Homo sapiens: one gene and its partner. The protein of the gene in region 2 interacts with the protein of the main gene of each other region in a biochemical or structural test. Each region holds a gene or a part of one and is shown on either strand. Other genes may lie near its edges. The genes, in order: DTNB and KIF5A.

Region 1 (3,729 bases), on a different chromosome or scaffold from region 2:
GAAGATGAGCTATGGGGGAGAAGAGACAGAGAGGAAAGGACGGAAGGTGTGAACACCCACCCCTTCTATTTTACCCTGACTGGGCCTTGGCAGGCTTGCCTGGGACTCCATCCGTGTGCGGCCAGGAGTTGATCCCACCGTCTCTGCACAGACCTCCTCAAAGCCAAGGGCAGGGGTCTGCAGAGGTGGGTGAGGGATGCTGGGGAGCCAGCTGTGGGGCTTCTCGCTTCATTACAGTCACTGCCCTTTATAAATATTTATAGCAGTTCTTCTGCTAAAAATAACATCCTGGAGCCCAGGGAGGAGGAAAAAATAAATGAAAATCACCGGGAACGGGACTTGATCACGTGTGCCCGAGCCCAATCGACCCCTAAGGCGAGAGGCTGCGAGCAGCGCCCCCGGCGGCGCGCCCCCTGGCGGCCACGGAGTCCGCGGCGCAGAGACCCTCCCGCCCTCTCCGAGGAGGCTCAGCCCGGCTGCGGCGCGCGGCTGGGTCTCCGCCCCTCCCTCCCGGGCTGCAGGCGGCGGCATCACACGGGGCGGGCGGAAGCCTAACCAGTGTGAGACTATTTTTAGCACCGTGGCCAGGGTGTGAATGTCTACAGAGCCGAGCAAGGCCTGACGCTTTCTTTGCACGCTGGAAGAAACCTGTTGGTTTTTAAAGGTCAAAGATAAGGAAACTTGTGCCCCCACGTTCAGGAGCACCCCACGTGCTGGCCAGACGCCAGGAAGTGTTTCATCAGGTCACAAACACACAAGAGCTTGGTGCTTTTTCTTTTCTCTTTTCAACCTCCAGGTGAATTCCTGATGCGGAGATGAGACCATGCCCTGAGGGGAGTGATGAAGGTGCTAGTACATGCAGGGCTGTGCAGGGGGAGGCCCACTAGCTGTGCCACGCAGCCCCTCCCCGCTTCCCACCGGCTCTGGCTCCCCTCTCCCTGGCGGGTGGAGTGACGTCTGGCAGCCTGCAAGCCTGGTCCAGGTGTGCGGTGGAAAGATGGAGAGGAATGTGCCTCTGGGGGAAGACCTTGCCTTCGCCATGTCGGCGCCAGCTTGCTCCTCGTCCTCTGTGCCTGCGCAAGACACACTCACCGTTAGTCACGGGCACTGTTGAGGGTTCAGGACAAAAGCTGCTAACATCTACTGTGAACAGGAGGCCCTGCAGGGAGGGGCTGCTAGGATGCTGGGCGCCTTTCAAGCGTTGGGCTGAAGGGTGGTACCTAGGGTCCTCTGCCATCATTCCTAAGGGTCAGGAAGTGTTTCCGTGGAAGAAAGAATTGGGTTCACAATGCAAGGTTTGAATGGGGTGATTTCTTGGGGAGAATTGTGGCCCAGGAGAAGGGCAGGGAGGACTGAGGTGTGCCGATGAATACTAAGAGGAAAGGGAGGAAGCCTCAGCCCCCGGCCAGCAGAGCGCAGGCCTGGGCATCCATGAATCCGCGGCACCCAAGTTTTATACTCTTAGTTTAACTCTCGGCTGTTGGTGTTTCTCATCACCCCTGATGTGGGTCAGAGAGCGCAGGATTAGGAGGCAGAAGACCCGGCTCCAATTCTGCTTCTGGCATGGAGCTTCTGGTGTGGGGCATTGGTTTCCTCCATGTGCAACAAGGCGGTGGGGGCACATGGCTCTGCCACGTTCCCTTGCACCCCAGTTCCTTCTGCCCCGGGGAGAGAGGGGCTCTGGCAGGCTCCTGCAGGGCGAGTCAGTTCCTGATTTCCCTCCTCGGCTGCCACGGCCTAGGCTTGCTTGGGAAAGGGCCTTGCCTGAATGTGCACAGTGAGTTTAGGGAGAAGCCTCTCTCCAAGCCCCTGGGGCGCTGTGATTTCCAGGGCAGCGAGAGAATGTGCGTGGCCCAGGTGCTGCCCTCTCCTCAGCTCGCACAATCCAGAGTCAGCGCAGGCCGAGGCTGCAGGGGCCCCGGGGGAGCGGGCAGAGGCCTTCAATGGCCTGGCGCGGTTGGGCAGAGAGGGCCAGAGGCTATTCCAGGATGACACGACTTGGGAGGGTCTGAAAAAACCCCTTTTCTGGATTGTGCAGCTAGGGCCCTGACTTCTTTATTCGAGGAAGATGCCTAATTTTTAAATATAAGAGGTGGGGGGGTGGGAGGAGGGGAGGGAAGACAAGATTTTAAAATGGAGAAGTCTGATATCTTGGTGCTGGGACTAGAAAGAATTAAGGTGTTGAGCTGGAAAATGGGAATGACTAATTCCTAAAGGCAATGAGCATCTGCCACTGGAGCAGTCCGTACTTTTCTGCATTGCTTCTTCAGGAAGTGAGAAGGTGCAGCTTGGCCGGGCACCATGGGAAGCGGCTTGGTCAGCCCTGTAGTCAGTGTGATCCTGCATGAATCACATGTCTGTGGGTCAGGGACTGTGATTCGGTGCAGTGCTGGGTGACAGAATCCAGGGACGCACTGGCTGTGGTTTGGATCCCAGGAAGGAAGTGGGCAGTGGCTGTGGGAAAGGAGCATGGGAGGCAGTGCTCCCCAGGGAGGTGGCCTTGCTCAGCACACCCTGTTTCAGCCAGCAGTGTCGGGTCTGCCAATGCCATCCCAACACAGAGGACACCAGGCCATGCCCAAGGACCAGGCCTGCAGACAGTGCTGTGCAAGACAGGACACAGCCTAGAAACAGGGCAAGGAGGGCACATGGCTGGGGTGGGCAAAGGGAAGGGACAGTTGGGCTCTTGCATCTTCACCTGTTAGGACTGCCCTGGCTAGGGACCTGTGACTGCAGGAAGGGAGGGGAAGGGAAGATGCTGAGGAAGGAGGGAGGGGCCGTGGGGAGGCAGAGGACTCTTTGTACTCACCTGAGCTTCCTCTGTGTCCGGCTCCTCTGCTAACCTGTGGCAGCATGGGCAGAAACAACACACTGAGGTCACGGCCAGGTCTTCTCATGCCCCAGACTATCTCAAAGGGGCTTCCCTGACCAACCCACCCCAGGGGCTTCCTTGCTTCTCCCGTTACTCGTTTGTTGACTTTTCCCACCCAGGTATGACAGCAGGGTAGAGTCATACTTTCTACTACTGTAGCCAACCCGAGGCAGCCATGGAGACAGATGCTTCTCAGGAGAAGGAAAGTCATTAAAAAATGGAATCAAAACTCCTTAAATCCAGGGAGCAGTTACATGAGGGGGGCAAAGCCCACTCAGCTCTGAAAGTTCCCCAAGGGAACATGACTGCGCCTTGAGTGAGGGCGGTCCCCCTCCTGCAGATGGTCTGCTTTGAAAAGCCCTGCGCTTGCTCACCCGAGGCTCGAGCACTGCCTGGCCCCTCCTGAGCCTGTTCTGTTCTCTGAGGGCCATTGCTGTCCAGCCTTGCACCAGGGCTCTTTATGGATGCAAACTGGATTTACAGCCCCCACACCGGGATGGCAGGGTATGGGAGGGGAGACTGTGAAGGACACAGGAGCATAACATGAGGCTGTGGAGGGTGGAGATGATGTACTATGGGGGAAGGTGTGTTAGTCTGTGCTTCTTCTATGTGTCTTGGTTACACTTCTCTTGAGGAGATGCAGAGGAGGAAGGGTACCCCGATGGAGCAGAAGCATTCCCCAGGATGCAGCCAGCCAGCCAGGGGTGAACAGGGAGAGGCGTGAGGCAGGGGTGAATATGGCAGGGAAGTTCAGCTTGGTCTAGATTCTTCAAAAGTTCCATTTGACTCTCACAGTTTCCTTATCGAGCAGACTATGTTTGCCTGATGGTGCTGACCAAATTCTGTTTATATTACGT
Region 2 (3,811 bases):
GTTCAAGTGATTCTCCTGCCTCAGCCTCCAGAGTAGCTGGGATTACAGGCGCATGCCACCACGCCTGGCTAATTTTTGTATTTTTGGTAGAAACGGGGTTTCACCATGTTGGCTAGGCTGACCTCTGGCGATCCGCCCGCCTCGGCCCCCTGAAGTGCTTGGATTACAGGCGTGAGCCACCGTGCCCGGCCTGTATATGTAATTATACATCTGATTTTTTTCATTCAGCATTATATTATGCACAATTTCCTACTTCATTAATAATTCTTCATAAAAGTATTTTTATTTTCATTTATTATTATTATTTTGCTTTGAGAGAAAGAGTCTTGCTTTGTTACTCGGGCTGAAGTGCAGTGGTGCAGTAATAGCTCACTGCAACCTCAAACTCCTGGGCTCGAGGGATCCCCCCCAACCTCAGCCTCTGAAAGAGCTGGGACTACAGGTGCACACCACCACGCCCAGCTAATTTTTTTTTTTTTTTTTTTTTGGTAGAGTTGGAGTCTCACTTTGTTGCCCAGGCTGGTCTCAAACTCCTGGCCTCAAGCGATCCTCCCGCCTTGGCCTTTCAATGCGCTGGGATTAAAGGCATGCACCACCAGGCTAGCTAATATTTTAAATTTTTTGTAGAGACAGGGTCTCACTATGTTGCCCAGGTTGGCCTTGAACTCCTGGCTTCAACCGATCTTCCTGTAGGATATGGGGTTTCTAACTCAAAGCTTATACTATCTGGATTTTTATCAGGATCCTGCCTCTACCCCCAAACTTCTTACGTCTAAACTGGAAGGAGTAGCTTCCCTTCACCTGTCTTTCCCTGTTGCCTCCAACAGGATGATGAAATCAACCAACAAAGCCAACTCATAGAGAAGCTCAAGCAGCAAATGCTGGACCAGGAAGAGGTAATAGGAGGGAGGGCAGGACATGAGAGGAAAGGGGTTCTGTTCATCACTGGAAGGCATGGAATAGACCTTTTTAAAATCAGATGGAAGAAGGCGCTTTCTGCTTGGGGATTAATCACTCCCCTAAACAGCAGAAGTCTGGGAACCTCACTGGGGCTTTTCTTTTCTTTTCCTTTTTTCTTTTCTTTTTTTTTTTTAGAGATGGAGTCTCAATTTGTTACCTAGGCTGGAATGCAGTGGGGCAATCTCAGCTCACTGCAGCCTCGATCTTCCAGGGTCAAGCAGTCCTCCTGCCTCAGCCCCCTAAGTAGCTGGGACTACAAGTGCACCACCACACATGGCTAATTTTTGTAGAGATGGAGTTTTGCCATGTTACCCAGGCTGGTCTCGAACTCCTGAGCTCAGGCAATGTGCCCACCTAGGCCTCCCAAAGTGCTGGGATTACAGGCGTGAGCCACTGCGCCCGGCTGGGGCTTTTCTTAAAGCACAAATTTTAAAGTCTGGGGGCTTCTTCATTCTTCATTCTGTTGCCCTATTTCTATGAAACCTAAAGCCCACTTCCTCTTAACTCTTTATTTTGGGTAGGGTGGGGGCTCAGCTTCCCAGACCCAAGGCCATAGAAATGGTCACTGGCAGTGATCTTTCCCACATGCCACTCCTCTCCCTTGAAGCTGCTGGTGTCCACCCGAGGAGACAACGAGAAGGTCCAGCGGGAGCTGAGCCACCTGCAATCAGAGAACGATGCCGCTAAGGATGAGGTGAAGGAAGTGCTGCAGGCCCTGGAGGAGCTGGCTGTGAACTATGACCAGAAGTCCCAGGAGGTGGAGGAGAAGAGCCAGCAGAACCAGCTTCTGGTGGATGAGCTGTCTCAGAAGGTGGTAAGTGGTGTGCCAATGGTCCAACAGCTCCCTGACCACAGAACATCTCCCATGTCGAGGGGACCTCTGCATCCTTCCAGGGCTGTATGGTGGCTGCACCTCTGCACTGCTGTTCAGTGCATTGTGAGTCCCTCCCCAACCCTGTCACTGCACTTTCCCCTCACAGTCCCTCTGTCTTTCAGACTCTTCTGCAGGGCCTGTGTTCTCTTCATAGCAGCCCTCAGGGTCTTGCATGAAGGGAGAGGCCTCTGCCTGGGCTGGGCAAGGGAGCAGGAGGATGGCAACAGGAATGACCTGAGGGGCTGTCCCCAGGCCACCATGCTGTCCCTGGAGTCTGAGTTGCAGCGGCTACAGGAGGTCAGTGGACACCAGCGAAAACGAATTGCTGAGGTGCTGAACGGGCTGATGAAGGATCTGAGCGAGTTCAGTGTCATTGTGGGCAACGGGGAGATTAAGCTGGTGAGTGGTGAGAGACAGCAGCCTTGTTCAGGCTGGGCACTAGTGGAAGACGCAAGATGAGCCATCCAGGCCTTCACAGATACTGAGAAAGGCAGCCAGAGAGCCAGGAAACATGCCTTTGAACTAGACCCAGGAAGACAGGTAGAGGCTTGTATAGACCCAATTGAAAAGATACATTCTAGGTTGGGCGCAGTGGCTCACCGCTGTAATCCCAGCACTTTGGGAGGCCGAGGCAGGCGGATCACTTGAGGTCAGGAGTTCGAGACCTGACCTCGCCAACATGGCGAAACCCTGTCTCTACTAAAAATACAAAAATTAGCCAGGCGTGGTGATGTGCACCTGTAATTCCAGCTACTCAGGAGACTGAGGCAGGAGAATCGCTTCAACCTGGGAGGTAGAGGTTGCAGTGAACTGAGATCACACCACTGCACTCTAGCCTGGGTTATAGAGTGAGACTCTGCCTTAAAAACAAAACAAAACAAAACTAAATTCTAACGGGTGCTGAATAAAGAAGCAATGGAGGCCAGGCATGGTGGTTCATGCCTGTAATCCCAACATTTTGGGAGGCTGAGACAGGCGGATCGCTTGAGCCCAGGAGTTCACGACCAGCCTGGGTGACATAGTGAAACCCTATCTCTACAAAAAATACAAACGATTAGCTGGGGGTGGTGGCACACACCTATAGTACCAGCTACTTGACAGGCTGAGGTGGGAGAATCACCTGAGTATGGGAGGTTGAGGCTGCAGTGAGACATGATTGAGCTACTGCAATCCAGCCTGGGTGACAGAGCCAGACCTTGTCTTAAAAAAAAAAAAAAAGAGGCTGTACATGGTGGCTCACGCCTGTAATCCCAGCACTTTGGGAGGACGAGGCGGGTGGATCACCTGAGGTCAGGAGTTCGAGACCAGCCTGTTCAACATGGAGAAACTCCGTGTCTACTAAAAATATAAAATTAGCCGGGTGTGGTGGCTCATGCCTGTAATCCCAGCTACTCACGTGGCTGAGGCAGGGGAATCGCTTGAACCTGGAGGCGGAGGTTGCAGTGAGCCGAGATTGCACCATTGCACTCCAGCCTGGGCAACAAGAGTGAAACTCCGTCTCAAAAAAAAAAAAAAAAAAATTTGGGAGGCCGAGGCGAGGTCAGGAGATTGAGACCATCCTGGCTAACACAGTGAAACCCTGTCTCTACTAAAAAAATACAAAAAATTAGCCAGGCATGGTGGCGGGCGCCTGTAGTCCCAGCTACTCAGGAGGCTGAGGCAGGAGAATGGCGTGAACCTGGGAGGCGGAGCTTGCAGTGAGCAGAGATGCGGCACTGCACTCCAGCCTGGGTGACAGAGGGAGACTCTGTCTCAAAAAAAAAAAAAAAAAGCAGCAGCAACAGAGCAGTGCTTGCAGTAGGAGTTAGAGGTGGGGCATAGGCACAGAGTTCAGAATGAAATATGCAAATCTGTGGATGTGAGAATAATCTGGGTGATCAAGGAGATCAAAAGAAAATCATGTTGCTTTATAAGATTTATTTGTAAGTGGGGGACTGTCAGAATTGGATTTTTTTTTTTTTTTGAGATGGAGTCTTG

Evidence for each region.
Region 1: the proteins of KIF5A (region 2) and DTNB form a complex in vitro, tested with the Homo sapiens proteins (one study listed by BioGRID).

The regions. Positions count from the first base shown.
Region 1 is NC_000002.12:25,376,481-25,380,209, forward strand, and holds the end of DTNB (dystrobrevin beta), read right to left. Parts: intron 2,844-3,729; coding exon 2,839-2,843; coding exon of another isoform or gene 2,810-2,838; intron 1,074-2,809; coding exon of another isoform or gene 850-1,073; 3' UTR 763-849; downstream 1-762.
Region 2 is NC_000012.12:57,570,494-57,574,304, forward strand, and holds part of KIF5A (kinesin heavy chain isoform 5A), read left to right. Parts: intron 1-827; coding exon 828-896; intron 897-1,567; coding exon 1,568-1,774; intron 1,775-2,086; coding exon 2,087-2,233; intron 2,234-3,811. UniProt on the Homo sapiens protein: Microtubule-dependent motor required for slow axonal transport of neurofilament proteins (NFH, NFM and NFL). Can induce formation of neurite-like membrane protrusions in non-neuronal cells in a ZFYVE27-dependent manner.